2 separate regions of the Homo sapiens genome follow, and region 1 is linked to region 2. Evidence: fine-mapped expression QTL. A gene starts in region 2. The other region holds a variant in brackets. All regions are shown on one strand. Distances are between the middles of the regions. Region 1 overlaps IL1RAP (interleukin 1 receptor accessory protein). Region 2 holds the start of IL1RAP (interleukin 1 receptor accessory protein).

What was found. PIP is the estimated chance that this variant, and not a neighbour inherited with it, causes the effect. A credible set is the group of variants that fine-mapping cannot tell apart.
Region 1: its variant is the best candidate, but not a certain one, in a credible set for the expression of IL1RAP in whole blood (TOPMed, PIP 0.59).

The regions. Positions count from the first base shown.
Region 1 is chr3:190,620,308-190,624,307 of GRCh38, reverse strand. It overlaps IL1RAP (interleukin 1 receptor accessory protein), which reads right to left. Exons shown (of 12, transcript NM_002182.4): 6 at 3,868-4,000; 7 at 893-964. Among named protein-coding and RNA genes, the nearest start is that of LINC02013, 77 kb to the left of the region's middle. The variant T/G (reference allele first, on the strand shown) is at 1,920.
Region 2 is chr3:190,511,994-190,516,524 of GRCh38, reverse strand. IL1RAP (interleukin 1 receptor accessory protein) reads right to left here and starts at 2,440. Exons shown (of 12, transcript NM_002182.4): 1 at 2,306-2,440. RefSeq lists enhancers at 1,250-1,749, 1,750-2,251, 3,004-3,093 and a silencer at 2,504-2,853.

The DNA of each region.
Region 1 (4,000 bases), 110 kb before region 2:
GTTACCCTGTTATTGGTTCTTATAACCAAGGATAATTATTTCAGAACAACTTTATGTAATCTTCCTCACTTTGCCTTTCAAAACTGTTATGTTCCTATGCTTTCTGGGTATGGCTATGGTTCCCGCATGGGATGCCATAGCACTCATATTCCTGGATTGCTATCTGCAATTCATTCCTGAATAAATCCTTTTCTTTTTGGAGAGCTATTGTCTTTGTTGTTATTTAGGTTAACACCTCTCACTGGGTTTGGACTGGATGTATTGTAAGTGATACAACATAGAAAATGTTAAAATTTTCTATAGTTTCCTGTTCACTTAACTGTGGGAGGCTTTGAGTCAAAAGAGTAACATGTTATCCCGTATTTGGTCAGTTATCAATGATTTTTGGCTATAATGAAAAATTATGGAAACTAAAAGAAGAACCGAAGAGCCACAGTAAGCATTCAATAGTGTTCTGCGTCAATGTCTACTAGTTTTATCAGTTGTTAGCTATTATATTCACAGTCTTGCCTTCAAGATCCACCACTGACCTTTCATAATGGAGCAGGAGCTTGAAGGATGTCTAAATCTTGTGCCCATGTTGCAGCCTTGGCAAACCAAAGCCCTGTGCAAGCTAAAGTTTGCATCAAACAGAAATCACTCATCAGCAGAGGAAGACGGCTAGCAGAGGGAGAAGGGAGCAGATACCGAGAGTGAAGCAAAAAATTCTAGAGTTGCCCATGGGATCAGGGAAGTAACTGATCTCCACAGCTGCTTTGGTTTCTGACATTTCAGTTTCAATTCATGTGTTTCTCTACAACAGTCGTCTATTTTCTTGCATTAACTTAAATGACATTTTATTCCTTGTAATTAAGAGAATCTAAGTGAAATTCAGAGACATAGCTGTAATTACCTGGTTCTTTCTCATAGACCACATGATCATTAGGTGAATGGATCACAGGGGGCACTGCATTTTTTGGAGAGCCTGTGTTAGAGGAAATAAAAAAGGGAGATGATGTTAAATCAGGCAGCCTTATTAAAAATTCTGCTCTTCTCTGAATCTTGCCTAACTTCCTGGCATAGTTTGTCAGTTGTTTTAGAGAAGGCCTATAGTCCAAGATATACTCAATTACTGCACTTCAGTCATTTAAAACAAGCAAAGCATAAAATAAAGGAAATACAGGTTTGATGACTGCTCCCAGTTCCTGACATGGGCTCCTAAATCCCCTGTGATTTCCTGTGTGACAGGGGTAATAGGAGCATCTATTGTTTTAATATTGTTCTAGTCCCAAATTCCTAACACAACAGCTTCTAAGACCTTTGGAATCTCTGGAGTAACGAGTGGATTTTATATGCTAATGAAATGATTGGTGGCTAGGGTTCCTATATAGCTTCTGGATGAGCGCTAGTAGCCAGAAAGACCATAGATGATTAACACAATCTCCAGCCTCTCACCCATCCCTGGAAGTTTGGGAGTGTGGCTGAAATTTCCAGTCCTTTTACTCAATAATGCCTGTGTGACGGAACCTCCATAAAAACCCTAAACAATGAGGTTCGGAGAGCTTCTAGGTTGGTAAGGACATCCACAAGCTGAGAGGGTGGAGCTCTGAACTCAGGACCCTTCCAGAACTCCCCCTATGTATCTCTTCAGCTGGATGTTCATTTGAATCCTTTATAATATTTTCTATAATAACAAAGTAAGGGTAAGTAAAAGGTTTTCCTGAGTTTTGTGAGCAGTTATACCAAATCACAGAACCTGAGGAAGAAGTAGTAGGAATCTTAAGTTTGTAGCCAACTCAGGCAGAGTTGTGGGTAACGCGGGAACCTATTGCTTGTGACTGGAATCTAAAGTAGGGGGTGGGGCAGTCTTTTAGGAAGGAGTCCTTCACCTGTGGGGTCAGTGCTAACTCTGGATAACTGGTGTCAAATTGAATTAAACT[T/G]TAGGACATGCAGTTAATGTCCTCAGAAAAGGTGAGAATTACTTTGTATAGAAGAGCCACACATTTAGTGACAAAAGTGTTTTGAGCATAGAAAAAAATAGTTTTTGCTTTACAAAGAAAAAAATAAAACATACTAAATACCCTCCATGCTTAAGGTCGGATTGCTTAGCAAAGCTTTCCAAAGCTTACATGAGATAGATGTCTTATGTTGCATAATACCTAATTGCTTTCATGCCTTAGTCAGTTGTTTCTTCTCTCTGTATTTCTTCACAACATTACCGAAAGTGTCTAGTATGGAAGCTGGTTAAATAAGTATTACATTAATGAGTAAATCAATGGAAAATTCACAATCATGATGTTAAGGCCGGCACATTAGTCTACTTGATGACTAGTTACCAGTTGAATGTTTGTTTATGAGATTGCTGCTCTTTATAATATTCAGTACTCCTAATTTTTTAAAAATAATACATTGAGTAGAGTTTTTAGTATTGTCTTCAAAAGTATGAGCTCCAAAGATTTAATAACCAAGTTCTAATCCTGATTTGGCCATATATTAACCATATAAAAATGCAAAAGCAAAGTTACTTGGTTTTTCCTAATTTTTGAAAAGCTAATTTTTCATAACTCTAAAATGAGGATAATTAAAACTCATATCGCAGTTTCACTATGAGAAATAAACTAAGGAATATATATTAAGGATATGCTACTGGCATATAATAAATACTCAACACTTTGCAGCTTTAAAACAACAAACTTGTGTTGCTTGAAATTTGAGAAAGAAGCCCCCAGTGCCCAGATCTGTCTGTGAATTTTTAAATCTGTTAATCAGAGTGACAAAGTATGCTTATTCCCAACTTCCCCAAAATGCATACTTTTAAGCACATATATTAGAAACAACTGCTAAGATGAATATAAGGTTACATTATTCATTTGACTTTTAAAATTTAGTCTGTTTTTTTCTTATGAATTAATCCCCAACTCAGCATTATTTAGAAAGTAAGCAGAAAAAGAACAGAAGTGATTACGACATTGTTTGAATACTATTTGCACTATATGAAAGGCTGTTTGTAGCTAACTTATACTAAATCATGTCAGACCAGTAGAAAAAGCCCTGAGCAGAGACCTGGGATCTAGAATTACTTCTTCAAGTAACTCACTGAGTGTCTCTAAACAGGTTACTTCTTGTCAGTGAGCCTAATGTTTCCATCTATTAAAAGATGGGGTATGACAAAACAATACCCAGAGATGCTATCTTTTTTAATACACTGGACACAGTGGTATTTAGGGGTAATCCCCAAAAGCCATATATCCTGACACTACTTCTCTATTTCTGGGTTTGCTAGGAGTTTGTCAACTCTGTCTAAGAATTGCCTTTCCCACTTTCCTAGTTTCTCACCCCCTATTCTCTTAGTGCAAAATAATGGTTGAACATTATTGCCAGCAAATACCTTCAGCAATAGGTACAGCAGTTTCAGTATGTAGAAAAATAGAGTTTACTTAATCCAAGTAAAACATTCTTTTGACAAAAGTGTTGCACTGAGTCTCTATTGCTTGCCTGAAACTGCATTAATACAATATGAATATTTTTTTAAATATTCTCAATCAATTGCAGTTCCAGAGTACAGATAAAGACAGGGACCTTGTTCAACGTCATGTTTCTAATAAGTGGCAGTGACAGAATTTGAACACAGATCTGTCTGGTGCTCCTTTCCCTCCCCAAACTACCTTTACTTCATTCATTTATTCACATATTCATTCAGTTGACCAACAGTTACTGAATGCTTACGATGTGCATGGAATTGTTGAAGGCTCTAGAGACAGTACTGTAAACAAAAAACATGAATCACTTTTCTTATACAATTTACATACTAGTGTGTAATAAACTATTAAAAACCATAACAAGATGATCACATGCTTGTTGTGTGTACTGGACACTAATCATGCTTACCTACTACCTTTACAGTCAGAGTCCTGGTGAGATGAAACGTACGTCCATTTTCTGGATATGTAACAACACATGTGTAATTTCCATTATTTGAAATTAAGGCAATGAGGAAACTCAAGTTCATACCTTCGGGTAT
Region 2 (4,531 bases):
GGAAATTTTAAAGTTCTATACATATATATGGTTTTGGTAACAAGTAATAATCTGTATGAAGATATGGGTATAATTGACCAACCTTTCTTTGAAGAATCAGAACCAAAGGAATTAGCTTTTAATCTCCCTTCCATCCTCATGATCTGACCTTATTTTGAACATTTTCCTTTTCCCCCACAAGGCCCCTGTCTCTCAGGCACACATTCAGTCATATCCCAGCCAGCTCACCACAATGCATGTACATGGAACAAGCTGATAGAAGCAGGTGATCCCATCCTTTACTAATGCTTGGTGCGGGAGGTACTTAAGTGGGCACCACTGGGCTCTTATCTTCCATCAAGATGTATCACACTCTGTTCTCAAGCACTTACCAATACTGCATACAAATGCTATGGCCTGTGAAGGAGGCAGCCAACTACAAATGCTGGACACTCAATTTAAGGACGCATGGCAAAGCCAGTAGATAGTAGTAAATTATTGCATGAAGTTCATCAGAATAAAATCAATTGTCATGAGAAGGGTTAAGGGTGTGGGAGGGAATCCATTTAACTTTAAAATACCAATAATACAGGAAGACTAGTGTGGGCATGTGAATGTCTGTGTGTTCGTGTTTAAATAAGGCAAGTTTGTGTCCAGAAAGGTTTGCATTTAGCAGCATCTCTGTACAATCCAAAAGAAATATATGAGAATTTTGTTTGTTTTCTGATACTAGATGAAAAATGTAAGGTTGCTCGACTGACCTAAGAGAGCAAGGATAGAAGGCTTAGAATAATCTGTAACACAGCTGCAACTTCCAACTTTGTCTTCTTGTCTTTCTGCCTCTCACCCATTTCAAGACCCTCTTTGTCAATAAAGGATGTCTCAGATCAGGGCAGTTCACAGGCCTGAGGTTTGACCTAAAAACTAGTAGGAAATTCATATCACCGAGAAACATCAATTTTACATTTCGAGCTAAGCATCCATGATCCACATCACATATGGACAACATTCAGAAAATTCTTATTATAAAAGAGTTGCTCAAATTCAAAAGAAGAAAGACACCACATTTACAGATTTTTTTAAAATGCCTCTGTAAGATGGTATGAAATCACCTTTCTGAAAACCCACTGTCTGCAAGGTTACTATGTAACAATATTTACAATAGTTGCCATTGGTTTTGAACCAACCAGATGCCAGGCCAGGCACTGTGCTAAACATGCTACTTGAATGATCCCATTTCATCCTTCCAACTACCCAAAGGGCTCATTGTGACCATTATAAATCTCCATTTTTTGGCTGGAAAAAAAAAAAAGGAAGAAAGAAAGAAAAGAAAAACCCAGTATCGGAAAGGTGAGATAACTTGCCCAAGTTCACACTGCTAATACATGGAAGAGCTGGAGTCAAAACTCAAGTCCTCTTTCTCATCCAGTAGCTAAACCAGGGATCTGTACAGCAGAGCAGCAGAATGCTTCGCGTGGCGCCCTGGTTCACAATTTCACAACCAGAAGGTGGAGGGAAGACAGGCTGTGGGCTAGCTCTTAAAGGAAACAGCCGAAGTTTGCTTTTATGTTTGTGATTTTCTCTTTAACTCAGCTTCCTTGCTCCCTCTCAGTATTTAGAAGAGGGAAGGGGCTCTATGGTTCCATGAAGTCAGCTCTTCCCAAGTGAGGGGCACCCTGTGCCCCACAGGGCCACTAGCTCCGCTTCCTCCGGGGCTGGGAAGAAACAGTACCATAGGAGGTCACTGGCGCCCGGGCCTCGCTCCTCTCTCCCCGCGCTCCTCCAGAAGCTGGTCCGACACCCTCTGAAGGGGCATCTTTCTGAGAAAGCAGGTCAGGGGAAGAGGGAGTGAGGCTGCAAGCAGCATTTTCCCAGGCTGTCACAGCTCTGCGCTGAGAGCGACGTGATACCGAGTGGGCGTGCTGGGACACACCGCTTCCTTCTGTCCTCGGCGCTTCCAGCAGCGGTCTGGAGAAACCAAGGAGGAGATGGGGGCGGGGGGTGGTAGCGGGGAGGGGGCGGTGAGGAGGAAAACAAGGGTAGACCCCTCAAAGGGCTGAGGATGGGGGCGGCAACGAGCAGACGTCCCACAACCGCGTTACTTAAATCCCTGCAAAGCAAAGATGGGTCTCTGAACGTTTGGGTTCGAATCCGGGCTCCAGTCCTAACTAGCAGTATGACCTATCCCAGCCGCTGCCTCGTTCTGTGCCTCAGTTTCCTCTTCTGTAAAGTAGGAGGGTTTAACGATAGGATCTCTAAGAATCCGTCTACCCTGAGATTCTGCGGCTTGGTGACTTCTGAGCCCTCACGGCGGCGCGAGACTCACCTTTCTTGGGAAGCTGAGAGGGCGCAGCAAAAGCAGCCGGGATGGGTGCAGTGTCGCCGGGCACTGCTTCCTTCCGCGCCTCTGGCCAAAGCGGACCCCGGAGACCTGGATCCCGGCAGTCTTCCCCAGTGAGCCTCTTACTTTCCGCCGCACTTTCTTTTCCCCCTTTGGGGCTCCTCCCCCGGAGCGGCGCGATTGGCCACGGCCTCACGGCTCAGGCTCCACCCGCCGCCTTGGCTCGCGATCCACCGGCGCTCTGGGCTTCCAGGAGCTGCGGCCGCGGGGCGGCGTCCTGGACGGTCCCGCCCGCCGCCAGGAGGCGCGGCGCCGGGCCCGCCTGCGGACGGATGCAAGGCTGCGCTCGGCCCCTTCGGCTCCCTGCCACCGCCTGTGCGGGCTTGAGCGCGCGGGGAAAGGAGAGGGTTAGTCCTGCAGCGCAGCTCGGCACGCTGCCAGGCGCTGTGGGAAGCTACGCCCCTCACTACACACCGAGGCGCACACATGCGCTCATTGCAAGATCGTGCTCTCGCAGTTGAGATCGGTGCCACCCTGCCCTTTCTTCCTGTCTCGACGTATTTAGCAATCATGCTGCAAGGCCTTGAATCAATTCAGACTGCACGATTTTCGCAACCACCCTGTGCCGGCACAGAGCGCGGCAGGATGTAGATGCGATCTCCGCAGTCCTGAGCTCTTGCTGTCTTGAACTGACATTCATATGAGCAAGCAACAGGACATGACAGCAAGACTAAATCTGTATTGTCCACTGGTAATATACCCATTGCCTAGCACAGTGCCTGGCACAAAGTAGGCACTCAATACATGTATGGGGAACGAATAAAAGAACTAATAGGTTACATAGAAGGAAATAATCTCAAAACAAATATTTGCCTTCATTCATTTCCATTTCCCCAAGTTTTTGCAAGAGCCTTCCTTCAGCTGCCCTCTGCCACTGTAGATGGTAGTCTGTAATATATCCCGGGAAGCGTTATAAAGGCTTTCATTAAGTCATCTCTCTTGTTCAGGCACCTTCTGCTGTGTTCCTACTGCTAGTGCCTCATGATTTTTCCTGACTGGCAAGGCCCTTCATGACCTGTCCCCATTTCTGAAACCCCCTAACCAAAGCCACCTACCAGACTGACGAGTCTTCGCACATCTTCTTGCTCATCACATCTTCTTTTCTCCTCCTCCTACCTAACTGAATCCTACTAATTTATTTTCAAGAATCAAGATTCAGAGAAAGCATTTAAGGAAAAGGAGAAAAAAGATGTGAAATAAGAAAAGGGCCCAGGTGAGTGGGAAGGAAATGAAACCAGCAGGTGCCCGTGCTGCTAAAGGTGCACAGCAGTACGAAACTCAGAGGCTGCCCCTGCCCTGGCGGAGCTTCAGTTCCTAAGGTGAAATATCAGTGTAATTGGAGCCATAGAAATGTTCATGATACTTTACTTCTTGACATCACTTATGAAAATTAATTGCTCAAAATTTTTATTTATCTCAGGATACCTGGGACCCAGCACCTGCTCACAACATTGTCACTGAACCAAAGAGAAAATAATCCAAAAGAATTTAAAATGTTACCTGTATGAAGCAACAATAAAACATTTTCTGATTTATTATTCATTCCTTAAATATATTCTGGGCACAGACTTTTATATATATATAGTACACTGAAGCATTTACACAGTGCTTACAAAATAAAAAGGTGCAATCATAAGGACTTTGTGTATATTAATTCAGGTAACCCTCAATACAACCTGGAGGGTGCTATTATTATCTCCAGTTCATAAAGGAGATAAAGGGAATTTAAATAACTTGACCAAGGCTACAGGCCTACAAGTGGAGAATACAAAATGAGACTAGAGACACTCGACGTTCATGCTCTCAGCCGCTACTCAGTCTCATGTACTACCTAGAAGCCAAACAGATGCTAGTAATTCAGAATTGAACCAGATGTATATTCCCGGACATTGAAGGGCTACTCATAGCTTAAGGAAGATAACATTAAGATGAATAATCATATAGACAAATATTCATAGTATATTGTAGTTTGAACACAATATAAATGGTTGGAAATGAAAATGATTAGTTAACCAACGCTGTCTACGCACAGAATAAAATATTTGCATCATAACTATCATATTATGGAAATATGTCTACAAAGAAAAAGGCTTACAAAATAAGGTTGAGTAAAAGTTGTGGAGAGATGAACACCAATTGAAAGGAATGTGA